Regions from separate parts of the Homo sapiens genome. Here regions 2 and 3 are each linked to region 1. The links come from fine-mapping of genetic effects on gene expression. A gene starts in region 1. Each other region holds a variant in brackets. All regions are shown on one strand. Distances are from middle to middle. Region 1 holds the start of PPP2R2D (protein phosphatase 2 regulatory subunit Bdelta). Region 2 has its middle 47 kb from the start of LINC01164. Region 3 overlaps PPP2R2D (protein phosphatase 2 regulatory subunit Bdelta).

Evidence for each region.
Region 2: its variant is fine-mapped to the expression of PPP2R2D in cerebellum (GTEx, PIP 0.95).
Region 3: its variant is fine-mapped to the expression of PPP2R2D in tibial nerve (GTEx, PIP above 0.99). The same link has a PIP of 0.9 or more in Th1 cells, aorta, breast, esophagus muscle, gastroesophageal junction and ileum.

What each region holds. Positions count from the first base shown.
Region 1 is chr10:131,896,343-131,906,646 of GRCh38, forward strand. PPP2R2D (protein phosphatase 2 regulatory subunit Bdelta) reads left to right here and starts at 4,666. Exons shown (of 9, transcript NM_018461.5): 1 at 4,666-4,813; 2 at 4,896-4,988. The coding sequence starts at 4,807. RefSeq lists an enhancer at 3,926-4,025 and silencers at 4,266-4,775, 4,846-5,245, 5,426-5,475.
Region 2 is chr10:131,737,619-131,747,922 of GRCh38, forward strand. No RefSeq gene overlaps it. Among named protein-coding and RNA genes, the nearest start is that of LINC01164, 47 kb to the right of the region's middle. RefSeq lists an enhancer at 5,582-5,681. The variant A/G (reference allele first, on the strand shown) is at 6,217.
Region 3 is chr10:131,933,822-131,944,125 of GRCh38, forward strand. PPP2R2D (protein phosphatase 2 regulatory subunit Bdelta) reads left to right here. Exons shown (of 9, transcript NM_018461.5): 3 at 637-734; 4 at 6,210-6,375; 5 at 6,761-6,873; 6 at 10,147-10,304. Among named protein-coding and RNA genes, the nearest start is that of PPP2R2D, 38 kb to the left of the region's middle. RefSeq lists an enhancer at 540-1,739. The variant T/C (reference allele first, on the strand shown) is at 4,332.

The DNA.
Region 1 (10,304 bases):
AGAGAAACCGTGTATGGAATGAGCTTTATTTTCAGGAACTCACTCACACAATTGTGGAGGCTGACAAGTTCAAAAACAGAGGGTGCACAGGGTGAGCAGGGCAGGCCGGCAGGCTAGCTCAGGCAAGGGCTGATACAGCAGCCTGGAGGCAGAATTTGTTCTCCAAGAAACCTCAGTATTTGTTCTGAAGGCCTTTGATTGATTGGATGAGGCTCACTCATATTATCAAGGGTAATCTCCTTTTCTCAAAGTCAACTGCCTGTGGGTGTTAACCACATCCACGAAACACCCTCGTGGCAATACTTGGCTTAGTTCTGATGAAATAACTACATACTATACCCTCGCTACATTGACACATGAGACTAAGTATGATAAAATAAAGGGGCGCATGCAGCTTGCACGCCTCCGTGTCTGGCTCCTTTCATTTTCGTAATATTTCGGGGACTCATTTGGGACTGCTGTTTGTATCAGTAGTAGCTCATGCCTTTTAGTTACTGAACAGTACTGCCTTCTATGATTACAATAGGCTAGATTCTAATACACACCAGGCATTTTCAATTCAGCTGTGAGATCTGAAAAACAATTTTAAAAAATAAAATTGCTGTCAATACTCAGAAACTTGTAAACACCAATTAGAATCCAAACAGAGAAATTCATTGAGCTATTAGGTTGGCGCAAAAGTCATTGTGGTTTAGCCAAATATTTTAAGTTTTTAGCATCATAAGAAGAATAGTTAAAAATCTCTTTTTAAAAAATAGTTAAAAATCTCTTGCTGGTCAGCTGATGCACAGTGGGACGCAGGGAAGGCAGCCCCCCAGTCTCAGGAATATGTTACTTTTGTGGCTATATCTTGTTTTTAGTTTAATTTAATGGGAGCTAATGAACCAGAAAATACATTCTAAACAAAAACTAATTATCTTGTCATCACTTCAAAAGACATATTTAACACACATTAAAGCAGTTACATAGGAACTAAGAATAAAATCCTACATCCCCCACTGGCTGAACGAACACCCCTGTGGCCAGGGGGGGCCCCAGGAAAACCTCAACACTGAGGCTATAATGGGGGATGGGAGGTCAGACAGGCCTCCTGATACCCCCGCCCTTTTGTGGTTTGGACACAACAGACCAGCGTTAACGTTAAACTAGAGACCATAAGACTGACAGAACGGACTCTGTGGCAGTAAGATGCCAAATCATAAACAGGGCCTAAGGCCGTGCGGGGGGAGGGTGAAGCCACGCACCGCACACTTACAGAGAAAACGTCGTTCCCACTGCTGTTGGGTTTTCCTTCCCTCCAGCAGCTAAATAAGCACTGGCCTTGATAGGAGCAACATTAAGCAACTGCAGCTCCACCAGCCACTAAGTGACCCCCAGCCCTGCTCCAGCAGCCGTAACTACAGCTTTCATTGGACAGAAGACTGTAACTGTCTCCTGATAAGAAACCACCGACCTTGGACTGGTTCTGGCCGGTTTACAGAGGTTGCACATCTGCATGCCTTCCTGTCCTGAAAAGACCTCTTGAGGTACAGGGCCTAGTCCTAATTTACTTATTTATTTATTTATTTATTTATTTAGAGACGGAGTCTCGCTCTGTCGCCCAGGCTGGAGTGTAACGGCACGATCTCGGCTCACTGCAACCTCTGCTTCCCAGGTTGGAGGGATTCTCCTGTCTCAGCCTCCCAAGTAGCTAGGACTACAGACATACGGGCGCCACCACGCCCAGCTAATTTTTGTATTTTTAGTAGACAGGGGGTTTCGCCATGTTAGCCAGGCTGATCTCGAACTCCTGACCTCAGGTAACCTGCCAGACTTGGCCTCCCAAAGTGCTGGGATTACAGTCGTAATATATTCAAATGTTTAGTCTCCCCGACAGAGTGAGATTGGGTCCTATGTTACATAATACACGTGTCAGGAGCCCCTTCCTGAGTATTCATAGCTCCTCCCAAAGCCTGTTGTCTATGTATGTTTAGCCAACCCGTTCAGCATAGAGCTCCTGCCCCAACTCCTCCTCCTACGAAGAGCCATCTCCCATCTTGGCCTGGGGGATGGCCACCTTGCTGGCTGTAACCATTTATAAGAAATAAAGTTCCTCTTTTTCTAAATTTATAAATTGTCAGGTTTTTAAGTTAACAAATAAAAGAGATCTGGTCATTAATTCAGGTTTTCAAGTGTCTTCCTGGGCAGATAGGCTAAATCTACATTTTAAAAACAAGATTACAGCCCCATTTTTCTGCTCTTCTTCTCCTCAACAGAGAAGTAGGTATTCACTGCCTCTAGTTCCTCTCCTGCCACTGTCCCCAGAGCCCTCTGCAAACTTGTGATCTGAGTCCATTCCATAGCCACCGCTCCGTCCAAGTCAGTAATGGCCTCCCAGTCCCTACAACCAAATGGTCACTCCTGTATACTCATCACATAGCATCACAGAGCAGCCACTCCCTCCTGTCTTCAGTGGATCCTGGAGATGGGTTCTCCAGGAGCCCACCTCGCAGGCTGCTCACTCATCCTCCACGTCCTCACCCCTTCAGGGCTCTGTCCTTGGTCCTGTCCCCCATCTGTCCTCCCTCCTGAGGTGACCTCACCCAGTTTCCTGACTTGAAATGACCTCTAAATGCTCTCACCTTGATGCTCTGGCTCTGACTTCCCTGTGTGCTCCCAGCCTGTCTGTGCAACAGCACTATGTGTTGACAGCGAACCTCTGGTCGGGCTGCACCGCCCCCACCCAGCTGTGCCTTCTGCTGCAGAAACTCCATCCTTCCAGGTGCTCAGACCACCCGAGAGCAGGCATTCCTAAGTCCCTGCTTTCTCTCACACCGCATCTTTTCCATCAGCAAATCCCAGGGGCTCTGCTGTCGAAGCACTTTTCTCTGAAATCTGACTGGTTCTCACCACCCCACCCCATGTTCACCACTCTATCCTCATCCCCATGCCTGGTCAGCCCAGCTGGCCACCTGATTGGTCTCCCTGCTTCCCCTCTTTGGGTCCCCACAAGCTATTCTCAGCAGAGCATCCAAAAGCCCAAGTCCATCACGATCGTCTTCTGTTCATGAGCCCATCTCATTCAGAGTCCAAGTCCCCTAAATGGCCTGCCCACTGTCCATCCTCCTCCACTTACCTCCCTGCCTTGACTCCAACCCCTGGCCTCCCCTCCACTCACTCTGCACCCACGCAGCTTCTGGCTGCCTCCTGCCCATGCCAGGCATGGCCCTCCTTCCTGTCCTGGCACTTGGTGGTCTCCCCTTCCTGGCCAAGCTTTCCTAGACGTCTGCATGGTTTGCTCTTTATCCTTGAGTCTTCTCCAGTCACCCCGTGCAAGACTCCAACTCTCCCCATACACATTTCCTTCTTCCCTGATTTTTCTCTCCAGCTCCGACTTATTATGTATTTATTTCCTTATTGTCTGTCTCCCCCACTGAAAGGTAAGCTCTACCAGGGCTGAGATTTCTCTGCTCTGTTAACCTCTCACCCCCAGGGCTGTGGAGTGTGCCGCACGTGGCAGGAGCTGTCAATAAATAATATTAATGGAGTGGACGAATGTTCCTGATTTGCAGCGACTGTCTTTTAGTGGTGCAATACCATCAGTGCCCACCGCAGCTACCCTGAAAGAAGTTCTGATTCCGGACATCAATCCCATAGGGACAGTCCCCCTGATGATAGCTCGACTTCAGATTTTTCAACTTTACGACGGGTAGATTGGGTATTAGATGCATTTTTGACTTAGGAAGGGCTTATTTGCGGGGAGGGTAGCCCCACTGTAAGTCGAGGAGCACCCATGATCGCTCAGTATGCCAGAGAAAACCACCCGCAAATGAAACGATCGGCCCTGTTTCCCTAAGACTGCACTGGGAGCTCCAAGAACCCCTAAGGTAGCCATCTGGTGAGCAACGGTGCGCTCCGAAAGGGAGGTGGACAGGATTGGGAGACCGAGGCCGGCAGATGGCTCGAGCCCAGGAGTTCGAGACCAGCCTGAGCAACATAGACCCCCGTCTCTACAAAAAATTTAAAAATCAGCGAGCCTGGCGGCGCGTGCCTGTGCTCGCAGCTACTTCCGAGGCTGAAGCAGTAGGATGGATTGAGCCCAGGAGGTCGAGGCTTTTAGGGAGTCGAGATCGCGCCCCCGCACTCCAGCCCGGGGAACAGAGCGAGACTCCGCGTCGGGGGCAGTGGGCGGGAGGCAGCGCTCAGGTACGGCGCGCTCAGGTGAGGCCGGCCCACATGCCCGCCCACCGCCGCCAAGCGCGTCCTCCATTGGCGGTTCCACGGAGAACCCACGTTTCCATTGGCCGATGCGGGATGGGGGCGTGTCCGGCCAAGCGGCGCCCTGAAGGCGTGTCCGGCCGCAGCTTAGGCTCTCCGGGAGTCCCCGGAGAGTAGGGGCGGCCGGCGGCGCTAGTCTTCTGGGGAGCGCCGGGTGCACACCGGACCACTGCGGGAGGCCTAGGGCCGAGGGCCGAGGAGCTGGCCTGCGCCCGGCGACCCCGGCTTCCCTCCGCAGTCGCCCAGGCGTCCCTTCCCCCCTACAGCCGAGCGGCGCCGGGCGCAGGCGCATTGGGCGCCCCCGGCAGCCCCCGCGGCCCGCCCCGTCCGCTGCCCGTCCGAGGAGGCGGAGGGCGATGACGTCATCGAGCGGGGCGACGGGCATTGGGCGCCATTTTGAAAAGGGAAAAAAATCCCTCCCCGGCGGCGGCGGCGGCGGCGGCGGCGCCGGCGGTGGTGGCGGCCCCGGGGCTGAGCGCTCGGCTGCAGCGGCGCGGAGGCCGTCTCCCTGGTCTGCCGCGGTCCCCGCCCGTCCCGCCGCCGGCTGCCATGGCAGGTGAGGGGTCTGCGCGGGCCGGCGGGGACCACGGGGGCGGGCGGGGGCCGCGGCCGGCCTGACCGCCCCGTTGTGTTTGCAGGAGCCGGAGGCGGCGGCTGCCCCGCGGGCGGCAACGACTTCCAGTGGTGCTTCTCGCAGGTCAAGGGGGCCATCGACGAGGACGTGGCCGAAGGTGAGCCCCGCGCCGCGCCCCGCCCCGGGACCCTCGCGGACAGCTCCCAGCCCGGCCGCGCGCGGCCTCCGGGCCCCAAGCGTCCGTGGAAGGCAGGCAGGAGGATGGGGGCCGGGCGGGGCAGGGGCCAGGGGCCGAGCTGGGGGCCGTGATCGGGGGGCGGCCGTCCTCTGTCCGCTGTCCCGGCCCGCGGGGCACGGGCGGAGGCGTCGGGCCCGCGGCGGGACTTATGTAAGTCACCAAGGTCACGGGCGGCCGGGTCCTCCGAACCCAGCGCCTGGGGCTGCCTCCTGCCCGGGGCGGAACCGAAGCCCGGGGCTGCCTCCTGCCTGGGGCGGAACTGAGGAGACCGCGGCGGAGCCGGGGACGGGAACGGAGTCCATATCGTGCGCTCGGGCAGCGCGGCACAATGGCCCAGAGGCTGGGAACGCGCCTAGGGCTGGGTCGGGGCCTCGGCCCCCACCAGGCTCTGCGTTTCATCGGCGGTGCGCTCTTGAGCGAGCTGGTTGCCTCGGCTCCCTGATTCTTAAGGTCTGCTTTCTGCGGTTCTAAAATCCTTGAATTTTACTGTGAGGTACTGCTACTTTCTCTACTGATATATTTTAAGGTCTCTATTCCAGATTTTAGTCTTGAACTTCATGGTATTACTTGAAGTTCACTGGTCTTTTCCTTAAATCATACTCTCAAATTGGCCCAGGCACAAAGTTTTAGGGTGGTGGGAGGGAACTGGGAAGTGCCTCCCACCCCAGCTTCCCATGAAGCTTACCTGTCACCTTAAAGTTAAAAAGCTATGTAGCTTTCCTTTTTCACCGTTGAATGGAGAACTTGGTCGAGTCTTAGAAGTTTGATTAATATTTCAGATTCAGAGTCATAGTGACTTTTTTGTTGTTGTTCATACATCTTACTGAACATTGTAAACCTTTAACCTTTTCTTAAAAATGATTGGTGTTTGCACCAAATACACCTTCCCTGCCTCAAGTTACTAAAAGCCCCTTGTCAGACGTCCTGTTCACTTCCCTCCATCTCGGCCCCCCCAACCCCGTGAACTTTTACTCCCTCTTCCCTACCCTGTACCTCTCCCTGGCAGTGTCTGGTTTGGCACATGACCCCTGAGGACATCTGGAGATTCTGCGCCCCCTGGGACAAACAGGGCCTAGGTTATTAAGCAGGTGAAACTGGGCTCTAAGAAATGCGTAATATATATGGTTTGAGATTAAAACTAGGTGCATTTTATGTGATCTAAAAAGTTTATTGATTTTATTTCTTTAAAATGCATTACTTTTTTTGTTTGATTTTGCATATGCTAAGCAAGTGACAGTTCAGCCTTACTCAAGTGTGATTTCTGTCGCAAGTAAAGCAAAACTTGTTTGGGAGTAGGAAAGTGAGAGGGCTTAATGCTTGCCTTAATTTCTGTTAACTCTTTATTTTGTTTTTTGGAGACAGGGTCTCACTTTGTAGCCCAGGCTGGATGGAGTGCAGTGGTGCGATCTGGGCTCACTGCAACCTCTGCCTCCTAGGCTCAAGCGATTCGCCCACCTCAGTCTCTGAAGTAGCTAGGACCACACACACGCGTGCACCACCACACCAGGCTAATTTTTGTATTGTTGTAGGGGATTTCGCCATGTTGCCCAGGCTGGTCTTGAACTCCTGGGCTCAAGTGGTCTGCCCACGTCAGTCTCCCAAGGTGCTGAGATTATAGGCGTGAGCCACCGCACCTGCCTGGTTTCTTTACTTAAAAAAAAAAAAATTATTGATAAGCTGAATGAATTAAAATTTAAGTATAACTAAGGTAGTATATTTTAAATGTGACTGTACACATATGAAAATAGTATTCTTTCTTTAAAAAAAATCTTGGGCCGGGTGTTGTGGCTCATGCCTATAATTCCAGCACTTTGGGAGGCCAAGGTGGACAGATCACTTGAGGTCAGGAGTTTGAGACCAGCCTGGCCAACACAGTGAAACCCCGTCTCTGCTAAAAATACAGAAGTTAGCCGGGCGTGGTGGCACATGCATGTAATCCCAGCTACCTGGGAGGCTGAGGCAGGAGAATCACTTGAACCCGGGTGGTGGAGGTTGCAGTGAGTGGAGATCGTGCCATTGCCCTCCAGCCTGGACAATAGAACAAGGCTCCATCTCAAAAAAAAAAAAAAAAAAAAAAAATCTTGACAAATACTTTGTTCTCTGAATTAAACTGATGGGAACTTTTTGCAGTTTTAAATCCCTATTTTAAGTTAAATTTTGAGTAAATCCAAAAGTTTGGTATTTCGAGTTGTCGTGGTTTCTTTTGTAACATTGCTTTGTGGTAATTATCTGCATGTGTTTTGGTTATTCTGTGTATTCAGAGCTGTCTATTTTAATCCATGTATGCTTTGGCCATAGTAACCCATCCAGATTAACACATTTATAAGTCACCATCGATTTGTCCCATAGTTGTGATACCGTTGCTTTGTATTAACACCAGAGAGTCAGTGATGATGAAGGGAAGTGTAGTCGTTAGTCACCAGGGATTGCTGAGCAGCAAGGATCAAGAAGCTGGTCATGCCCAAACGCAACCTTGAGGGAGAGATGTTGGTGAGAGATAAGAGATGGGTGGCTGGGTACGGTGACTCACACCTGTAACCCCAGCACTCTGGGAGGCTGAGGCGGGTGGATCACTTGAGGTCAGGAGTTTGAGACTAGCCTGGCCAATATGGCGAAACCCCATCTCTACTAAAAATACAAAAATTAGCCAGGCGTGGCAGGGCCGGCCTGTAATTCCAGCTCCTCAGGAGACTGAGACAGGAGGATTGCTTAAACCTGGGAGGTGGAGGTTGCAGTGAGGCGAGATGGTGCCATTGCACTCCAGCCTGGGCGTCAGAGCGAGACTCCGTCTCAAAAAAAAAAAAAAAAGGAGAGAGATGGCCGGGCGCAGTGGCTCACGCTTGTAATCCCAGCACTTTGGGAGGCCGAGGCAGGCAGATCACAAGGTCAGGAGATCGAGACCATCCTGGCTAACACGGTGAAACCCCGTCTCTACTAAAAATACAAAAATTAGCCGGGTGTGATGGCGGGCGCCTGCAGTCCCAGCTACTTGGGAGGCTGAGGCAGGAGAATGGCATGAACCCGGGAGGCAGAGCTTGCAGTGAGCCGAGATCGTGCCACTGCACTCCAGCCTGGGCGACAGAGCAAGACTTTGTCTCAAAAAAAAAAAGAGAGATGGGCAGTTCACAGGGGTTTTTATCGTGCACTGCTGCTCAGGCTGTAGAACTTAAGGTATAGCAGATTTTGTTTGTTTAGATTTGTGGCTTGTGAGGCATTTTGTTCTTGAAGGTTTTGTTCTGGGCCAAGTTCAGCTCTGTAGAGCTTTACTACAGCCCTGCACTCTGGCCGTCTTTCTGCCCTCTCTGCAATGGGTAAGGAGAAGGAGCCTTAGAGATTAAGGCCTGGGTCCTCTCCTGACTTCAGTGGGGTGATGCCCAGTGCACAGGAAGTGGTGCAGGGCTAGGAGTAGGCACTCCTGACTTTGGAGGTCATGAAGTGAGTGACATAGAAAAGCCTTTGGTTTTTGTTTTGATTTCTGTTTTGTTTTTAAAACTAATAGTTTTGGGCTGGGGAATCAGAATCAACCTATGGTGAAAGTGCTGGCCTATGTAAAATTTGATGCGCACCCCACCCCCCTTTTTTTTTTAAAAGAATTGGGTTTAGCTATGGGTCAGGTCATTTTGCTAAGAGTTGTGATTCCACTGGGTCATCAGACTTCCCATCCCCCTGCAGGTAGGAGTAGAGCTGAGCTCACAAGGAAGTTATTAAGTGTCCTGCTGATGAGCAGGTGTATAAGCAGCAGTCAGTGGTGACTTGCATCTCCTCCCTTTGCTGGAAGGTGGGACTAGGTGAGTTTATATGCTGAGTTGACCAAGAGTTAAAATAGTAAAACCAGGGGGCTTCCAGCAGGAAGCAAGTAGAAAAGTTGTTTGTTAGCTTCTAATTCCACGATGTTGCGGTTCTAAACGGTGGCTCCTTTCTGGAAATTGTTAACTGTTGTGCAGATTTTTTCTGCATGTTATGGAATCACCTTCACCCAGCCCCTGCTCCCTCTCCTGGAACGTACTTCATTCAGCATGTGATGTGTTTTGCAATGTCACATGGTATTTCATCCTTTGCTTCTCTCTCTGGTAGACTGAGCTCCTCAAGCTTGAAGGCTGGCTGTCCCCCTTCCCACCCCAGCCCTTGTAGAGGACCCAGCACGAAGGTCATGATAGGTAACAGTTGCTGAGTGGTCATTCTGTGCTAGAGATTGCTCGCAGTGCTTTTCCTATGTCAGTGAATCTTCACACCACCGAAGAAGGAAGGAAATACTGTTCTTCCCAGTCTCAGATGCAGAATCCGAGGCGTGGGAGCAATTAACCTGGGTCACAAAGCGAGTGTATGGCAGGGCCAGGGTTTGGAGCCACGCCGACTGGCCGCAGAGCCGTGGAGCGCTGTACTGCTTCAGCGACCATTTGCAGCCAGCACAGTACTGATGAAGCCCCACTGTGGCATGCGGCCGTCCAGCCTTGGGATGGAGCTGTTCTTCTAAAGCTCGGTGAAAATCTTACTACCAAGAGGCGTGTGAAAATGCTTTTGAAGGCAAATGAAAATGGAATGCCTTTAAAGGAAGTCTGTGTCAAAATGATAGAAGATTAGTAACAAGGATTCAAGAATAGCATCACTTTCCAACCAATTCTCAAACTATTTGAAGAGTAGATACCACAGAGACAGTAAGTAAGTGAAACACCTGCACGTCAAGCAAGTGCTGCAGCACCTTTGCCTGTGATGTCACTTTCCACATGACTGCAACCTGCTTACCTGCAGGGAAGCTATGGGTCTTGCTCCTTTATATATTACACTAATTGCTCCTATGGAGAAACCGTGGGGAGGGGTTGGGGGAGGAGGGTCTTATATTGAACCTGGTTTTATATAGCTTTATAGCTTGATAACAGCTGGTTCCTTTCTTCTCAGAATTTGTAGTTTTAAGTGTATTGGGGTTTTATTTGTTGATTTTGCTTTAATCAGTTTCTTAATCCATGATCTGTTGCTTTGAATTAGACATTAACCTGTTTCTAAAGAGATAGACTAAACAAAACTAAAGGTTTGTTTGCTTAAGTCAAGCTTGAGTCTGGGGAGTTATGTAAGTAACATAGATATCTGGTTAATCTGGTAGGATAGCCTTTCCAAGGGAGTTTACATTGGTACTTTGAAAGAAACATTTTAAGTCGCAGAAAGGTAACAAAAATTAAGTTAACTGTAGCATCAGCACCAGAAAGTTACTGTTTCATTGAATGTAAGATAATGTCTGGC
Region 2 (10,304 bases), 160 kb before region 1:
CTGGAGGGTTGAACCAGTAGCCAGGCCAGTGCTGGAGCTCTTGGCCTAAACAGGGCCCCGGCCCCACGAGCTTCCCCTGGACACCCCTCTCAACCCCACCCGCACCTGGAAGAACAATGGGCGTGGGATGATCTGTGAGTGTCCCGGGCGACTCTCTGAGTCTCAGGGCATGGAATTCTTAGTGGGGTTCCCCATCCCCCATGGTGGGGAGGCTGCAGAGAGGTGCCTGTCTTTGCTAAGTGAAAGGAGACGACCAGTGACACCCCCCCATGGCACACATGGGAAGGACCTGGAAGACATCTCAACCCATCTGCCAAGTGCAAGTGCAGAGGCAGAAAGGTTGAGAGGAGACGGGATGCAGAGCCTGGGGAAAGGACGGGCTGGGGTAAAGAGGGCCCGGCCCTGCCTCTGGGGGCTGCACACAAGCCCTGTGCTGGCCGAGGACCAGGTAGGCTGGCCGGCTGCCCCATGGAGAGGGGCAAAGGGGCAAACAGAGAGCAACACCTGGCATTTGTCTTCCTCCTGAGAGTTGCCTGGGCTCCATACAGAACGTAGAGGGTGGCAGGGGCCAAGATCACCGCCCACTGGCCCCACAGGATGGACACCGTCCTTCAAGGCTGGGAGGAGGGTCTGAGTGTGAGGGCTGTGGCTTCATTACCCATCATGCACAGCAGCATGTTCATGCAGTCAATCAGCAAACATCTGTGCACCTGCGAAGTGCTGAGAACGCAGCACTGAGCAAGACACTGCCCCTCCATGGAGGAACTCACAGGTGTGGGAGTGGGCAGGCAGGAGGCCGGGCGCACATGCAGTGTGTGAGCCTGAGGCACCCTAGGGCTGAGGAAGGGACCTGGGCTGCTCTGGGAGCCCCAGAACGCAGCTGGAAGGAGGAGGCGACCTTGAGCGAGCCTTGAGGGAAATGCACAAGTTAATCTGGCTGGAGGTACCTCCCCCACCATCATAGCCCACCCTCAACACGCAAGCTCACTGCGAGTGCCACACCCGGATGGGGAACGATCCAGCTCTCACCTCACTTTCTGGTGCACAGTGTCCCTCTGCAGCCATGACCCCCACCCCATGCTGCCACGTGAGCCTGGCCATGCTCGTTTACTTTTATTTCCTTTTAAAACTCTCTACTGGAATAGAATGTGCATTTATCATAAGTGAGCAGATCATTGGATTTTCACAAACCAAATCATCCATGTAACCAGCACCTACACCAAGAGATGGAACCTAACCAGGCACCCCCACAAAACCCACGCCCCTGCCCACTCCCAACACCCCACGCTCCTGCCCCACCCCTGCAAACCTAGGCTCATATCCCACCCTGCCCACCCCATGCTCCCTCCCCACCCACCCCACGCTCGCTCCCCACCCCTGCAAACCCAGGCTCACGCCCCACCCCTGCAAACCCAGGCTCACGCCCCACCCCACCCACCCCGCGCTCCTGCCCCACCCCGCGCTCCTGCCCCACCCCCACCCCACCAGGTAACCACCTTCTTGATTTCTCGCATCAGCGTCTGGCCTGTTTTTTTAATTTTTTTTTCTTTTAACAGCTTTATTGAGACATAATTCACATACCATAAAATTCACTTTTTAAAAGTGTACAGTTCAGTGGTTTTGAGTGTAATCATGGAGTTGCAAAATCATCACGACTGTCTAATTTTAGAACATCTTCATCACCCCCAAAGATACCCGATACCCTCCTCAGTCACTCCCCGTTCCCTTCCTCAGCCCCCACGCAGCAACAGTCACTCCCCGTTCCCTTCCTCAGCCCCCACGAGGCGACAGTCACTCCCCGTTCCCTTCTTCAGCCCCCACGCAGCAACAGTCACTTCCCATTTCCTTCATCAGCCCCCAGGCTGCAACTGCTAATCTGCTTTCTGTCTCTAGGGATTGGCCTGTTCTGGACATTTCATATCCACAGTGCCACCCATGTCTCACTCCAGACCTTGGGGGTCTCCCCCAATACTCGGTCTCCCCCATCGAGTATGACATATGCTATGGGATCTTCATATATGCTGTCCATCACACATCTGTACCACCGAGTATGAAACATGCTCTGGGATCTTCATATATGCTGTCCATCACGCATCTGTGCCATCGAGTGTGACGCATGTGGCTGGATCGTCATACATCCTCTCTATCATGTATCTGCACCATTATGATGTGTGCTGTGAGATCTTCATACGTGCTCTCTGTCATGCATCTGTACCTTCGAGTGTGACACATGCTCTGAGATCTTCATACATGCTATCACACATCTGTACCATTATGACGCATGCTGTGGGGTCTCCATACATGCTCTCAATCATGCATCAGTACCCTGCTGTGGGATCTTCATACATGCTCTCTATCACACATCTGTACCATTATGACGCATGCTGTGGGGTCTTCATACATGCTATCACGCATCTGTACCATTGAGTGTGACACATGCGGCCAGATCTTCATACGTGCTGTCAATCACGCATCTGTACCATCGAGTAAGACACGTGCTGCAGGATCTTCATACATGCTCTCTTTCACGCATCTGTACCATGCTGTGGGATCTTCATACATGCTCTCAATCATGCATCGGTACCATCGAGTATGATGCGTGCTGCAGGATCTTCATACATGCTCCCTATCACACATCTGTACCATTATGACGCATGCTGTGGGGTCTTCATACATGCTCTCAATCATGCATTGGTACCATCGAGTATGACGCGTGCTGCAGGATCTTCATACATGCTCCCTATCACACTTCTGTACCATTATGGCGCGAGCTGCAGGATCTTCATACATGCTCTCTATCATGCATCTGTACCATGCTGTGGGATCTTCATACATGCTCTCTATCATGCATCTCTACCCTTGAGTATGACACATGCTGCAGGATCTTCATACATGCTCTGTATCACACTTCTGTACCATTGAGTATGACATGTGCTGCGGGATCTTTGTACATGCTCTCTATCCCGCATCTGTATCGTTGAGTTTTAAAAATTAATCTCTCTCTTTACTTGTTATAAACCTATGCCAATTTTCTATTTCTTCTTGGATCAGTTTTCATAGTTTATGTCTTTCTAGAAATTTTCCCATGTCATCCAGTTATGAAATGTAGTGACATGCAGTTGTTCGTAATATACCCTGATAATCCTTTTTATTATTTAATTTAATTTTATTTTATTTTGAGACAGAGTCTCACTCTATTTCCCAGGCTGGAGCACAGTGGGACAATCTCAGCTCACTGCAACCTCTGCCTCCTGGTTCAAGTGATTCTCCTGCTTCAGCCTCCCAAGTAGCTGGGATTACAGGTGTATGGCACCATGTCTGTTTAATTTTTGTATTTTTGTAAAGACAGGGTTTCACCTTGTTGGCCAAGCTGGTCTCGAACTCCTGACTTCAGGTGATCCACCTGCCTCGGCCACCCGAAGTGCTGGGATTACTGGATAATTCTTTTTATATCTATAAGGTTGGTTTTTTTTTTTTTCTTTTTTTTTTTTTTTTTTTTTTTTTTTGAGACGGAGTCTTGCTCTGTCGCCCAGGCTGGAAGTGCTGGAGTGCATTGGTACAATCTCGGCTCACCGCAAGCTCCACCTCCTGGGTTCACGCCATTCTCCTGCCTCAGCCTCCTGAGTAGCTGGGACTACAGGCGCCTGCCACTACGCCCGGCTAATTTTTTGTATTTTTTAGTAGAGACAGGGTTTCACTGTGTTAGCCAGGATGGTATGAGGTTGGTTTTCATGTCACCTCTTTCATCTGATTTTATTAATCTGAGCCTTCTCCTTCTTTAGGTTTTGCCCATGTAGCTAAAGGCTTGTCATTGTCGTAGATCTTTTCGAATAACCAATTTTGGTTTTGTTGATTTCCTCTACTGTTTTTATACTCTATATTTTATTTCTTTTCACGCTAATCATTATTATTTCCTCCAACTGGTCTGCTTTGGATTTATTTTGCTTTCCTTTTTTTAGTTTCTTGAGGTAAAGATTAGGTTATTGATTCGAGATCTTTTTTCTTTTTTAGTATGTGTTTGCAACTACAAACTTCCCTCAAAGCTCTGTTTTAGCTGCATCCAGTAAGTTTTTGTATGTTTTGTTTTCATTTTCATTCATCTCAAAGCATTTTCTGATTCCTTTGTGACTCATTTGACACCCGGTTATTGAGGAATACGCTGTTTAATTTGTGTATATTTTTGAATTTCCTAAATTTCCTTCTTTTGCTGATTTCTAATTCTATCCCATGGTGGTCAGAAGATACTTTGCATGAAAGCAGTCTTTTAAAATATACTGAGGACTGGTGCAGTGGCTCACGCCTGTAATCCCAACACTTTGGGAGGCTGAGGCAGGCAGAAACCACCCTGGGCAACATGGTGAAACCTGTATCTACTACAATACAAAAAACATAAGCCAGGCATGGTGACATGCACCTGTAATCCTAGCTACTTGGGAGGCTGAGGCGGGAGAATTGCATGAGCTGGTGAGGCAGAGGTTGCAGTGAGATAAGACCGTGCCACTGCACTCCAGCTTGGGTGACATAGTGAGACTCCATCATAAATAAATAAATAAATATAAATAAAATATACTGAGTTTTGTTTTATGGCTTAAGATATGGTCTATCCTGAGAATAGTCCCTCAAGATCCTTAACTTACTTACATCTACAAAGACCTTTATTCCAAATAAGGTCACATTCCCAGGTACCAGGTGGGCATATCTGGGGTCAGGGGGTTTCGGGCAAGGAGGGCATGTGAGCTAAACGCACAAACACCCAGGAGTGTGTGGGTGTGGGGCTCTGGGAAGTGTGAGGCTCTACCCCTGTCCTCGCCAGGCTGCTTCTCATGTCTCTACCCCCAGTGCCTGGAAAAGTCTCAGGCGCCCATGAGGAAGCCTCTCTCCCAGATCCTGGGCCCCAGCACCTCCCACCTGCAGCATCGCACAGGCACAGGGATCCTCGGCACTGAGTGACCCTCGGCACTGAGTGACCCTCGGCACTGAGGATCGGAGGCCGAGGGACACTTCGCAGCTGTGAGACTGAGACCCCGACGAGCAGCTTAACCTCCAGGGCCTCAGGACGTCTCCTCCAAGCTGGGTTGATGATGGCTGTGCCCAGAGGAACACTGTGCTCCCCACACCTGGCTTTCCCTGCGAGGACACGGCATCTGGGCTGGGCACGCGTCTGGGGCCCCTCCAGGCCTGGCGAACACTGTGCTCCCCCCACCTGGCTTTCCCTGTGAGGACACGGCCTCTGGGCTGGGGGCACGTCTGGGGCCCCTGTGGGCCTGGCAGGTCCTTGTGGGAGGGTCTGGGGACCAGCACCCAGTGCACTTTGGGATAAAACTTCTTTGAAAATTTTCTCGCCCTTTTCTGGCATCATGGACCCTCCCCAAAGACTGAAAGCCACCACAGTGAAGGAGAATCACCAATGATCGGGGCTCATCCTGGAGCCCCTTCCTCCCGAAGTGGCAGAACCATGTCCAGGAAGGAGCCAAGGGGTGCTGGGCTCCCCCACCACGGCCCCACCCTTGCCCTCCCTTCCTCCACAGCCTCCCCTCCACAGACAGCCAGGGACATGGCCAAAATGGGGATCCCTCTCATCTGGCAGTTTCAATTCTGTTCCCATGGAAACTGCTATCTGAATGTGGGCAAGAAAGAGGAGCCATATTCTTTAAAATAACAATCACTCGGAAACTTTCATGGGCCTGTGTTTTCAGTTACCCGTGGTTTCCATGGAAACTCAAGCCAAAAACAGAGCTAAATAAAGAAGGCACTGGGTTTCCCCTGCTACCAGCCCCCCGGGGAACTGTGGAAAGCCACAGCCCTGCCCCACAGGGAGTTGCTCACCACTGCTGTACAAGGATGCAGGACCAGCCCTCCCAAATCAGCCACGGGGCTGCCTTCCTCCTAAGCGCATATGGGTGTGGGAGACGCAGAGAGGGAGGGAAGGAGAGGGGCCACAGCTGCTTCCTGTCCCTGCAATCAGCCTCTCCTACCCCAGACTCACATGGGGAAGGCACACTGGGCTGTGGGTGCCCCAGGCCGCCCATGCCGGCAGAGGTCACTCACTGGGGGGTTAAGGGCCCATCTCAGCATAGTCAAGGCTACCTCACCGCTCCCCTTTTCTGAAAGTCGCCATGGGGCAGGGAGGGATCTGCAGCAGGCGGGGAGGCCTCTGGTGGAGGGCATGTAAGCCAGGCCAGCATCTCCCAGACAGCCCTGCACAGTGAGCCGAGC[A/G]TGGGCTTGCTTTGACAGGCTCTTGCTGCTGCCCAGAGACCTTGTCCAAGAGCTCCTACACTGAGGGCTGCGGACCCCATGTCTGTTTTCCACCGAGGAAGTGCTTGGGAAATACCCAGGGAACGGACAGCACAGAAAATCCCCTGAAGATGCGACATGCAGGGGCCCCCGTTGCTTCTCCAGCTGCAGTTCCCGAGAAGAGGCTGGTTGTGCAGGAGCCAGGGCAGCTGGGGCCCCCTGGCCAACTCGCTGCCGTCCTGCGCAGAACACTGGCTCAGCAGCCAGACGCAGCCTACCCTGGCGGCCCTGCCCGGCCTGAAAGGAAAGTCATCTGCACATTCTCTCGCATCCTACCTGCTTTCTCTTTCTTCTTCCGTTTAAACAATGCTCAGGACACCGGCTAGACCGTGTTTTCTTTTGTTTTGTTTGTTTTTTCTTTTAATAATGTCTACATTCCTTAAAGCAGTGCTTTTATCTCAAAGCAACTGGACACGTGGTTACGTTACTCTCAATTTCCTGCCACCATCATCACATTTGAAAGATGCTGGAGTCATGAGCCTGTGAACTCTCGTGACACACCCACTCGGGTGCTGGAGTCATGAGCTGGTGAACCCCTGGGACACGTCCACATGGATGCTTCTCAGCTCTCACCCCTTCAGTGCCAGATCTGTGCTGGGCCCTCTTCTGCAGGGCCTCAGACTCTGCGTGGTCCAGAGAGGATGCCGTCATAGCCAAGCTCAGGCGGAGGCCTGGGGTCCGTCCCAGCTGCATCCCCCACTGGAAGGAGACAGGTGGGAAACAGGCTCGGCACCAGCCTGCCCGACTGCAGAGCAGGAATGCTTTTCCCTGCGGAGAACACTCCTCAGACCTCCACTCTTTCACTAAAATTTGAAGTAAACATCTGTATTTAACTCATCAAGCCTCGTCACAGACGCTTCACCTTCAGTCTCCCAGGAAGATACATTTTTGGGGTAATAGGATGGGAAGCACAGGAGGACAGGAGCATGGGAGGACGGGAGGATGGGAGCCTGGGGGGACAGGAGTACGGGGGCACGGGAGGACAGGAGCATGAGAGGACAGGAGTTTGGGAGGACAGGAGCCTGGGAAGATGGGAGCACAGGGGCCACGGGAGGACACTAAATGGGACAGGAGCACGAGAGGATGGGAGCACAGGAAGACGGGAGGATAGGAGCATGGGAGGACAGGAGGATAGGAGCACAGGGGGCATGGGAGGATGAGAGAATGGGAGGATGGGAGCACAGGGGGCATGGGAGGACACTAAATGGGAGGACAGGAGCATGAGAAGACAGGAGCACAGGAGGATGGGAGCACAGGAAGAAGGGAGGATAGGAGCACAGGGGGCATTGGAGGATGGGAGCATGGGAGGACAGGAGCATGGGGAATGGGAGCACAGGAGGAATGGTAGAACGGGAGGATGGGAACACAAGAGGACAGGAGCACTGCAGGACGGAAGCACAGGAGGATGGGCTCATGGGAGGACAGGAGCCCGGGAGATTGGGAGCACAGGGGCATGGGAGGACGGGAGCACAGGAGGCTGCCTGCAGTGATTTTGTTATTCCCTTAACTTAAAACCCAGGACGTGGGACCAGATGTTTGAGAGACACATTAAAACCAGTGAGAATTAAGCATAGGGAGCGTGATCAAAGCTCATGCCTCTCCCAATACCATTTTGGTTCCTAACAGTTAGAAACAAAAAGACGTCCCTATTCTGAGGCATGAAGTATGAATGTGAATTTAGATGAAACTTTTAAATTGATCTTAAAGGACAGACAAATGTCAATGAACAGCAGAGTTTACAAATTGCAAGACAGAGAAGAAGCTTCACCAGCCTGCGGGAAGATGCCTCGGCAGCGGCGGGAGTGCGTTTCCTGCACATATTCACCCATCACTCATCTTTCATCCGTGCTCCCTGAGCAGGTGCTAAGGCAGAGGGTGCTCGCTCAGGGCGAGAGGCAGGCAGAGGCTGCAGTGCCGGCGGGGCAGGGTGTGGCTCCTCTGCAGGGCCACGGTGGACAGAGGTGAGGTACCAGGAGGCTTGAAGGAGGGGTGTCTGACCCAGCCCGGGCACCACAGAGGACTGCCTGGAAGGAGCTACCACTGTGAGCCCTGACAGAAAAGAAGGCCTAGCCCAGAAAAGAGGCAGTGTCGTCGGCAGATCCCAGCCCAGTCAGGCCTGGCGTCAAGAGATGCCTTCAAGATGTAGGCAGCGTAAAGACCTATACACACACACACACACACACACGCAACACACAACACACAACACATACACAGACAACACAACACATACAGACACACACTTATAACATGCACAAACAGCACACACACAACTCCCACACACACATATGGATACATACAGAGGTGGCTCCAACAGGATGGGCTGGCCTGGATCACAGGTCTGTGTGCCCTGCGGCGGGGGGAGCCTTGGGCGGCGGACACAGGGTCTTATTCTCCAGCCACCCGGTGCAGTGGGGACTGTGTGCCCTGCGGCAGGGGGAGCGGCAGACACAGGGTCTCATTCTCCAGCCACCTGGTGCGGCGGGTTGGTCCCTGAAGGATGTGTGACCATGGGTTGGGCTTCCAGGGCTCTCTGCAGGCATCCAGAACAGATCCTCAGGAATGTTCAGCTTCGTATTCCGCCCCCCACCCCCCAAGCCAAAGAGGGGCTGCCGGCTTCACCCCACAGGCCCCCTCAGCCCTGACTTCCCACGGGGGCTGCAGCAGGGTTGCCCGGGACGTTGACTCGTGGGTGAAGAACCTGTCCCCGGAACCCCACTGGGACGCGGCCTTGGCAGAGGACCCTGGACCACTGCTGGGGACAGAGCTGGGGGGAGGGGACAGGGCCATGTGCCCACCGTGGGGGACAGAGCTGGGGGGAAGGGAAGGGGCCGTGTGCCCAAAGCTGTGGACAGGGCTTGGGGGGGATGGGACCATGTGCCCACCACTGGGGACAGAGCTTCTGGGAGGAGACAGGGCTGCTCCTCCTCCTGCTCCTCCTCCTCCTGCTCCTCCTTCTGCTCCTCCTTCTGCTCCTCCTCCTGCTCCTCCTCCTCCTGCTCCTCCTCCAGCTCCTCCTCCTCCTGCTCCTCCTTCTGCTCCTCCTTCTGCTCCTTCTTCTGCTCCTCCTCCTATACTTTCTCCTGCTCCTCCTCCTGCTCCTCCCCCTGCTCCCCCTCCTGCTTCTCCCATCCTCCTACATGCTGTGACCAAGCAGACCAGGTTTCACCTGGTCATCCCCAGCCACTGCTATTACTGAACTCACTGAGGGCCTGGAACTGCAATGAGTGGTCACGGCCCACAGAACAGAAAGGGCCCCTGATACCCACACACTTCCTAGGGATGGAGCAGGGAAAGATATCTTCTTTTACAGCCCTACAATATTAATGAGAGTTCTGAGGAACTTTCCCATTTCTCTTAAGGGACGGGCAACCGTCACCCATCAGCACTGCCTCCTCCACCGGGACAGGAGGAGCTGACTGCTGGGGGCTTTCAGAGCATCTGCCCCGACGGCCTCCGGGCCCAGCCACCACACCCACCGCCCTCAGCGGCATCCTCCAGTGTTCAACACTGTCCCCAGCTGAGGCTGAAGGTCCCATCAAAGAGAAATGGAATCCAAGGGCTGGAGAGGGAGGGAAGATGCCGCTGGGACAGCGTGTGAGTGGCCAGCCAGGGGACGCACCTCCTGATCCGGCCATACACAAGGCCACCATGGGGTGAAATGAAGGCTAACGTGGCAGTCAGAGCCACGAATGAGGAGTGGCTCAGCCACGTACAGACGGGGTGGTCAAGTTTGAATAACTTGCTAAGAAATGGTAAACCCAACTCAGGAAGTCTAAACCAGGAAGGCAGCTGACATCTAACAGGGCGCTCATGGCGGGCTCTGTGCCCTCATTTGCTCATCTGTGAAGTGGGGATGAGGATGACAAGCTTGTGGGCTTGGATGGTTGATTCACTTTCTCCAGCTCACACAGGGCACAGGTGCTGACTGGGGATTCAAGCCCCATGGTCAGGCCCCAGGGTGGGGACGCTGAACCAGGTGCCCTGTGGGTTCTCCGGACAAAGCCAGGGTC
Region 3 (10,304 bases), 37 kb after region 1:
GTCTTGGCCTCTGTTGAGCTGGTGTCTGGGGTCTTTGTTATGCTGTCAGAGATCTCAAGGCCTCCCTGACAGTTGTCTCACTTGGTAATGATGTCATCATTATCAGTGGTGGTAACTGTATCCAGACAATGACATGGAACTTCTACTGTCTAGAATATTACATTGTACAGAAGCCAACAAAAGTTATTGCATAGAATATTAACAACATTTTTATTACTATTATATAAGAATCAGATTTATTTTAAAAGTTAACATTAGGTATGCATTATAAAATTAGGCAACATTCTTCAGGACCCATTTTTTTCCTCTATTTTTTTCTTTTACAGATGAATTTTCTAAATTTCTACCCTTTATCCTTTTATCAAGACAACCTAGTCTAGATAAATCCTGGTGCTCCAGGGGCCCAGGCATGGGGGTGGAGTAAAACTCGCCCATTCACCTGTGCCGGCAGGTTCTCTGCACCAGAACCAATAAGTGGCCACTTGGTAATTACAAGTTTGCCAAGACAGTTTTGCTTTAGTCTCGGAGAAAGTTGTATATGTTTATCGTCCTTTTGCTCTTTTTTATTAATTTTTTGGTATTGTGACTCCTCCCCAAAACCGCATCCGGTAAATCGCTTCTGTATTTTGTTGACAGCGGACATCATTTCCACCGTTGAGTTTAATTACTCTGGAGATCTTCTTGCAACAGGAGACAAGGGCGGCAGAGTTGTTATTTTTCAGCGTGAACAAGAGGTCAGTAATTTTCAGTCCACAAATCAAATGCAATTATTCAACCTTTCGCATATAACTTAGAAGGGAGGAAGCAAAATTATTTTCTCATTGTCTCATTTCATTAAGATTCAGTTCCATCACATTAGCCATACAGAATCTCCTTTCAGAAATTATCTAAGTTCTGGCCTCAGCTGCTGAGCCCCGGTGAAGTCTCCAAGGCCTTTGTCTTCAGAGTAGGGAGGAGATTCCGCTGGGGACCCCATGAAGGATGCAGGGTGGTGGTGAGGTGCATTTATGTGCTTTCATTCCATAAGAACTCACGCGGCTCTCTCTGAAAATCCCTTTATACGCCTATGCAGGTACTGGCCCAGCCCCGCCGTCCTGCCCTGCCATGAAGTGTGAGCAGCTTTCTCAGCACTTCCTGCAGAGAAGTCTGGCAGGGGTGTGAATTCTCTCTTCCCTTCAGGGAGAGGTGAGCAGCACTCACTCCTCCATGCCCCCTTGAAGGCTTCACCTGTCTGGAGGGAAGGGAACCTTCAGAGTGTGGGCCTTGGAGGAGCCCACAGCTCATAAGCAAGCACTGGCTTCCCGGTCACGGCACTGCCTTTTCACTGATGCCTTGCCAGCCCCCTCCCTCTTCTTTCTGTTGAGCCTCCTCAGAGGTCCTAATGAGCAGTGATAAAGGAAGCAAGATCATGATTTGGTAGTCAAGGATTCCTGGCAAGAACCCTGGCTCTGTGCAGCTAAGCCTGGGGTCTGAAATATTTGTCCTGCCTTTTCCTTATAAATACAGTCCCTTGCCCTTCCTGTCTCTGAGTTTCCTAACAGATGAAAGGGACAGTTTATCATCTCCAAAGTCTGGTCTCTAAATTTGTGTGACGAACTTTGGTTTAGAGGTTGGTGGGCCCTGGTTCCCCTCTCTGCAGATCTGTACACAGGAAGTGCTGGCCCTGCCCCCCAGGAAGGGGAGCCTGGAGGAGGACTGTCCCTGGGCCACATGAGGAAAATTGACAGGTGCTAACCAATTTCATTATCAAAACATACCTGTTGCAGCTTTATTTTGATTATGTCCAGGTAGTTAAAGATTTTTTTAAATCCTGTTTTCTCTGATTTGGGATGGTAAGAAATCCTTTTGTGAATAATAAGTATATCGTTAATATTTCTTCACAGTTTGATACATTTATAATTTTGCATTTTTATCTCAGAAGTAGAATATCACACAATGCTACTTAAGAACCATATACCTTGGCCAGGCGCAGTGGCTCACGCCTGTAATCCCAGCAATTTGGGAGGCCGAGGTGGGCTGATCACCTGAGGTCGGAAGTTCAAGACTAGCCTGACCAACATGGAGAAACCCTGTCTCTACGAAAAATACAAAATTAGCCGGGTGTGGTGGCACATGCCTGTAATCCCAGCTACTTGGGAGGCTGAGGCAGGAGAATCGCTTGAACCCAGGAGGCAGAGGTTGCGGTGAGCCAAGATCGTGCCATTGCACTCCAGCCTGGGCAACAAGAGTGAGACTTCATCTCAAAAAAAAAAAGAACCATACACCTTACCTTTCTCAACAGAAGTAAAAGTGGGTTGTGGTGTTTAAATGTTACTTTTAAAGCAGGAGGAGTTTTTGTTTTTTTGAGATGGAGTCTTGCTCTGTCACCTGGGCTGGAGTGCAATGGCGTGATCTTGGCTCACTGCAACCTCTGTCTCCCGGGTTTAAGTGGTTCGCCCTGACTCAGCCTCCCAAGTCGCTGGGATTACAGGCATGCACCACCACGACCAGCTAATTTTTGTATTTTAGTAGCGATGGGGTTTCACCGTTGGCCAGGTTGGTCTTGAACTCCTGACCTCAGGTGATCCGCCCACCTCGGCCTCCCAAAGTGCTGGGATTACAGGCATGGGCCACCACGCCTGGCCAGCAGGAGGATTTTTTAACAAATTGTTGAGTCATGGCTATCTTAATGCAAGACTTCACTTTTAGCTTATTTAAAAAGTCTGTCATTGTAGCGATAGCCTTAGGGAAGATGCCTCATCCCTGCCTAACAGATTTTAGGTTAGAAAATGGAATTTCTCTTGTTTTTGTGAATCGTTGCTTAACCTAAATAATAATAGTCTCAAATATAAAACAAACCCTGATAAAAGTCAAGCATCTCGTTCTAAAAGATATTGGGTATTATAGAGTGTTAAGTGCTTTTTTAAGATGAAGTTGTTATGTGAGTGACAGATTTATACAGGAGCAAGTCCCTACTGAAGTTGTTCAGCCAGCTGCAACTTGACAAACCCCAGGCAGCCTTTTTTCTTTTTCTTCGTATTTCGGTTCACGTCTGAAAGGCTTTCACGGTCCATCCATTTTAGAGCATTCGGCTGGTTGCCCCATGTGCCCTTCCCTGTGGACTTGAGTGTGTCTGTGGGTAAGGGCGGCAGTGCACGTGTTCATCCATGGCCGGAGGCCGCGGATGGTGTTGCAGCCGCCAAGAGGGTGAAGCTGCTGCCCATCAAGCGACCCCAGCTCCCAGTTAGAAGCTGCAGCAAGGTTCACAGGCGTCCACGTGTGCGTCTTAGAATCGAAGGAGCGTGGAGGATTCGGAAGGCTAGTGAGTGAGCACCAGATTGTGGAAGGTGCAGGGCCTGAGATTCAGGAGTCAGGTCCATAGAGGCCCGTTGGGAAGCTCTGGCTGTGCAGAAGACGAGGTGGGAAGCATAGTCAGCACCTTGAGTTTCAAGCTTTTCTTACTTTTCTGTGCAGATTAAGTCTTACAGGAAAGCCCAGCCAATAAAACTAAGGCCCACAGAACGTATGGGTGTGGCTGTGCGGCCCACTGCCCTCCAGGCTCAGCTCTAGCCGCCAGGAATCAGGTGAAATCAGAAATCAGCACGTCCAAAAAGAGAAGGTGCTCGCTTCCTCCTCTTCCTGTGTGTTACTTCCCTGCTCTCCTGCCCGTGTCCCCATGAGGCTTCCTTTAGAATTCTCTCCTAGCAGAGCGGCACTCCATGAGATCTGGGAGTGTTGGAGAAGGCTGAGGGGTTGCTTGGGTTTGGGGTGACTGGGATGGGAGTTGGAACCCGTTCATGGCAGAGAGACAAGCCTGCAGCCTAGGGACCATTCTTGTTCTGGCTCTTAGGAGAAAGGCCAGGGCAGTGCAGGCAGCACTTTGACTTGGACATTTTATTTTTTTGCTTCTATTCCGCTGTTTTTTCTTGGTAGATGAATGTCTTGGGCATAGGACTAATTTAGTTATACAGATTTTTCTTTTTAAATAATTTGGTTCCACTTTTCTCCCTTGAAATAGAACTGTCTGTTGAGGGGCTGTGCTTTTTTGTAGAGTGGTAGGAGAGGGTCAAAGGAGAACAGTTTCAACATCTGCCCCGTGCAGCACACGCGGGGCAGTCAGCAGCAAGGCGCTCAGCTCCTGCCCGTGGAGGCTTCGGTTGAAGGAATGCAGGAATGCCCTGCCTGTCAGACTCAGTGCGGCGGACAGGGGCAGGCGAGGCACTCAGCTCCTGCCCGTGGAGGCTTCGGTGGAAGGAATGCCCTGCACGTCAGACTCAGTGCAGCGACGCGGGGCAGGCGAGGCGCTCAGCTTCTGCCCGTGGAGGCTTCGGTGGAAGGAATGCCCTGCACAT[T/C]GGACTCTGCAGCAGTGCGGGTGTGGGTAGCTTCTTGGGATGTCTTCTCCTGATACTTGATCAGATTGGAAATATCAAGGAACATCTGTTTAGACTTGAAAGTTCGTTTAGTTCCATTCCTTTAGCATATGTACTAAAGTGTTAAACACCTAAGATATTAGATATTGGTTATAGAGCAAGAATGAAAGTACTGGCGTCCTTGATTTTGAATTATGAAATATTTAATACTTAATAGAAAATTTCACTTAGGGCATACAGAAGATTCAGAGGTTAATATAGATGTACCTGCAAACCCACCACCCAGAGGTTATCCCTTCATCAAAGGAAGGAGAATGCTCGGGATACAGATGAAGCTCCTGTTGTCCCCTCCCCATTTCAGCCTGCTACTTTCCTCCTGGTCTTTTTCACTCTCCCTCTAGCTTCCCAGAGTTGCTCATGATTTTGAAGATGGCATATGTCTTCCCAAGCATGTTTCTCCACTTCTGTAACAGACTTGTTCTGTACGTACGTAAGCAGCACCTCACTCTGGGCACCTGTGCAGCCTGCTTCACTTGTGCAGCACTGTGCGGTTGTCTGTGCTGGCTCATTTATCTCAGCGGCTTCGTGGTGGTCCCTGCATGGCCCTGTGGCTTACTGTTGCCCTTCGCCTCTGGTTGGCATATGTGTGGCGTCTGGTTCACTACCACTGTGTTGGAGCTGCCACATCGCTGTGTCACGCTCCTCAGGCCCGTGCTGGCTCTCCTCTAGAGCAGACTCAGCAGACACTTTCTCTCCAGGGCCAGATTGCAAACATTTTTGCCTCTATAGCTCATGCGGCCTTTTCACAACCACTCACCTCTACCCAGATGGTGCAGAAGCAGCCAGAGACAGTATGTGCACACATGGGCCTGACTGTGTTCCACTAACACTTGCCTTAAATACGGCAGGCTGCATTCAGCAGACCTGCTCCAGAAAACACGGCAGGCTGCATTCGGCAGACCTGCTCCAGAAAACACGGCAGGCTGCATTCGGCAGACCTGCTCCAGAAAACACGGCAGGCTGCATTCGGCAGACCTGCTCCAGAAAACACGGCAGGCTGCATTCGGCAGACCTGCTCCAGAAAACACGGCAGGCTGCATTCGGCAGACCTGCTCCAGAAAACACGGCAGGCTGCATTCGGCAGACCTGCTCCAGAAAACACGGCAGGCTGCATTCGGCAGACCTGCTCCAGAAAACACGGCAGGCTGCATTCGGCAGACCTGCTCCAGAAAACACGGCAGGCTGCATTCGGCAGACCTGCTCCAGAAAACACGGCAGGCTGCATTCGGCAGACCTGCTCCAGAAAACACGGCAGGCTGCATTCGGCAGACCTGCTCCAGAAAACACGGCAGGCTGCATTCGGCAGACCTGCTCCAGAAAATACGGCAGGCTGTATTTGGCAGACCTGCTCCAGAGAACACGGCAGGCTGCGTTTGGCAGACCTGCTTCAGAAAATACGGCAGGCTGCATTCAGCAGACCTGCTCCAGAAAACACAGCAGGCTACATTCGACAGGCTGAATTCGGCAGACCTGCTCCAGAAAATACGGCAGGCTGCATTCGGCAGGCCTGCTTCAGAAAATACGGCAGGCTGCATTTGACAGACCTGCTCCAGAAAATACAGCAAGGCTGCATTCGGCAGACCTGCTCCAGATGCATACCTAGAAGTGGAGTCGAAGAGTCGGAAATCAAGTTCGTTCTTTTTTTTTTTTTTTTCCCTGAGTTTCATCTGAGATTTTTTTGAGCCAGGATTTTTTAGCTTTAAAAAATATGTATGGTCATTTGATATTCAAATTTATAGTACTGAAATTTTCTCTACACTGTGCTTTGTTCATTAAAACAGCTCTCATGTTTCCTTGCAGAATAAAAGCCGCCCTCATTCTAGGGGAGAATATAATGTTTACAGCACCTTTCAAAGTCATGAACCGGAGTTTGACTATTTGAAAAGTCTAGAAATTGAGGAAAAAATTAATAAAATTAGGTGGTTACCACAACAGAATGCTGCTCATTTTCTACTGTCTACAAATGGTAAGAATTGTGTTCTAAGTGGCTGTTTGATTTAGTTTTTTATTTTTAATTTTCTGTGTGTGTGTAGATTCCTTTTTATTTTAGAAGTTATTCCTGCTTTAAATTTTGGGGGGAGGGTAAGTTATCTAGGGTAGCAAGTGATAGGTTGAAAATTCAAAGTATGCAACAAAAACCACACGTGCACTTTATTATGCTGTTACTCTGCACGTCTGCACATCTTTCTTTATTGTACAAAACACCTCCAATTGGAAATATTCATGTTCAGAGACCCCATAGCTTATAACCCAATATAGGACCACACCGCTTTCTAATACCAGTACTCAAACAGTAGTGATGCATGTTATAGTTTTTCTTTTCATATGGAGAATGAGGTTTTTATTTTCAGATAAAACTATAAAATTATGGAAAATAAGTGAACGGGATAAAAGAGCAGAAGGTTATAACCTGAAAGACGAAGATGGAAGACTTCGAGACCCATTTAGGATCACGGCGCTACGGGTACACGTTGCCTTTGCTTTATCCAATGCTGTTGAGAAGTTAAGAATAAACGTTTCAGTCTGCTGTCTGGAGAGTGCTGCGCGGTGGAGTACTGTGAGGTCTGCTGTGAGGTCTGCCTCGTGATTCCTGAAAGTCGTTTGCACTCATGTGTGTGTTTAAAAGCAAGGTCTTTCTCCTGTTTTCACAAAGGCAGAAAGTCACATGTGGTCCTTAGGAAACACAGCAATACTAAGGGGAAAACTCATATTTAATTCTACAGCAGAAATCTTTGTGGACATAGCAACCACCCTTCTCTCAGAAGGTTCAGAACAGCACCTGGGAGGTTGGAGTTCAGATGAAATTCAGAACACCTCACAGGTGCAGTAGCACAGGTTGCAGGTCGAAAGATGAGCTGTGGGCCACAGGTACATTCAGGACGCTTCTCGGGGAATTTCTTTGGGGTTGGTTTAGGCAGATGCTGATGGTTCAGAACTCTCCACCTGTCCATCCATGAGCATCATTACTTTTTTAATTGTTAAATTATTTGCTCCATTGTTGGTAGTATGAAATGATCATATTTCATCAATTCTGATGCCTAAATTTTTTCATATTTTAACATTTATGAAACCGGCTAAAACTCAAAACCTCAATGTCTTATAATTGGCCTGGTGCTACGCACCACTGATGTTGTCTTAAATTAGATGGAACATGGTGAAGGGTGTCCGGCAAACTGGGCTCGAGCCCAGGTGTGTCTTGGTGAGAAACCAGCACCTGTGCAGAGGTGTGTCCCCTGGAAGGAAACTCTGCCTGGTCCCAAGGGGGTGCCGTTACTAGATTGGAAAACCGTTGGTTGTTTGGGTGGTTGGGTGGTTTGGTTGCGGGGGGTGGGTGGTTGAGTTGGGTGGTTTGGTTGGTTTTTAATGAGATTTCAGCCCCTTTTACACTATTGTTTATCAAGTGAAGACTGAGTGAGTGAGCCCATTCCACATTAGTCTTGGAGAGTGCTACAGAGGACGCTGTACCGCAGAAGCCTTTCCCTAACACATGTGCCTCTGGGAGTGATGTTGGGTCTGTTCTGATGCCATTTCTCCAGCTTTGCCGTGTGGGGTGGCTACACCTGGGGTTGTGCATTCCTCAGGAGGAGTGTCCTCAGACTTCTCACATCGATGTTGTCACCGTATTTCCTATGAGTTCATCAAAGCGAGAAAGGCTGTGGCATTTGCTGAAAATCTAGTTTATAGGGTCCTAATTTGAACCAAGATGTTTTGATCCAAAATGTTGGTGATGTCTGATACACAGTGCTGCCGCCTTTGCACCCCTGAATTAGTGTAAATCACTTTTAGTGACAGTAACACGAGTTGTGCAGTTCCATCATCATGAAACTGCTGATCCTAAAGTAGAAGTGTGATGGGACCCCCGAGGGTGGGCACTTGACCCCCTCCAGCCTTGTCCATCTCTTCTGCAGCCAACACCACCTCCCACCCAGTTACCTGTGCACACCCCACCCTCAGAAACCCCTGTTCCTCCTGATCAGACCCTGCCACAACCCATCAGCTCACGTGCTCATTTTGGGAGAACAGTAGGCCTTTACTAGGCCCAGTCTTGGTTTTATTCAAGGCTGCTTTTGTAGGTTTAGCCTAAATAAAACGGGTATAATTGGTGGCCCTACTGAAGGTGTGTGAGAAGTCTAGTTATTTCATTAGTTGGTGCATGGGGAAGAGACCACAGACAGGTAATTCTGTACATTGACTTAGGTCGGTATTTGAGATCTTACCTCTCTAACAGTTCAGAGTGGGCTATTTATGTATCTGAGCCTAACTGGGTAAGAGTCAGACATGTTGCTGTTTTTAAATTTTTGCTCTTAAATTATTTTAGTGCCAGAAAAGGGATATAATTAAAAGAAGAAATCTTGGCCAGGTATGGTGGCTCATACCTGTAATCCCAGCACTTTGGGAGACCGAGATGGGAGGATCACTTGAGCCCAGGAGTTCAAAGACCAGCCTGGGCAACATAGCCAGACCCCATCTCTAAAAATGAAAGCAAATTATTTTATATGCAAATTAAAATGTTTTCAATAAAAGAAGGAATCTTTGTAAGTATTGCAGCTATCATATGTTTTGATTAATGGGAAATTTGTTAGAGGATTGGGGTAGGTGTGTGTTTTTAAGCCTGAACTTGGTAGAACTGACTCTTCTTGCTCTAGAGAATCCAAGGGTGTGGTCAGCACTACCTGGGTTAAAATGAGGGAAGCCTCCCTACACACACTTTTCCAAGTTGGTTTTTTACAGAATTCAGCCAGACAAGACTCAGTTGAGAGCTTTTCTTTTTCCCCTAAGCTTTCAAGGCTCTCCCTTTTGGTTTCTAATTACAAGAATAACAAAAAATACTATCATTAATTTTTTGTTTTGATTTTAAAGCTTATGTTTTTCTTCCAGCTGGATGTTAGTGAGACACAGGCCTTTTTCCTTTTTTCATGTGTGATGCTATTCCTCACGCCTGAGCTCTCACCTCTGACCATAGGCGGCCTGCAGCCAGCGCCCACTCCTCTCTGTCCTTTCTATTTCTGTGCGAATTGGGCTTCCCTAGGAAGCCTCCCTGACCACAGCACTCAACACAGAGATGGGGGCGGGAGGTACCTTCTACTTTTTGTTTTAACCTCAAGTGAAGTGTAATATATAATACATACCTCCAGATAAGACATCTGCCCTATAAGTGACCAGCTCCATGAATGTTTGTAGGGTGCACATGCCCATGTAGCCAGCCCCAGACCAAGAAATGGAATATCCTCAGCTCCCCAGCACCCTGCTGTGCACCCTGCCAGTACCTGGAGCCAGTGGAGGTTTGTGGGGTTTGCACCGAGAAGCATAGTCCTAGTGCAGTGAGAAGAGGTGTGTGCATCTAGCTGCAAGGAGAGGACAAAGGGAGGGGTGCAGCTGAGCCACCCAGGAGGACTTTGCTGTCCAGCGCCTCAGTGTGGCCACTGGAGGACACACAGGAGAGGGAGCCGCAGGCCTCGGTGCCTGGGCAGTTTGTTACCCTGCCAGCTGATCTTCTCTTCAGCAGGAACATGTCGACCTCGGTAATGGAAGCAAGGGGAAGACTTGGAATAGACAGTATTCCATTTTGTAGCATATTTTCATAACTCTGCTAATTGGTTATTTGGGGGTATTGCCTGTACAGAATTATTACTTAGCCATGAATATAAACTTGTCCTCTTTCGTTATCTACTATAAGTGTTCTAATTATGTGCTGCTGTGATCTTTGTTTTGAATTCCTATTTCCTTCCATTTTTAGGTCCCAATATTGAAGCCCATGGATCTTATGGTAGAAGCGAGTCCACGGCGAATTTTTGCAAATGCTCACACATATCATATAAATTCCATTTCAGTAAATAGTGATCATGAAACATATCTTTCTGCAGATGACCTGAGAATTAATTTATGGCACTTAGA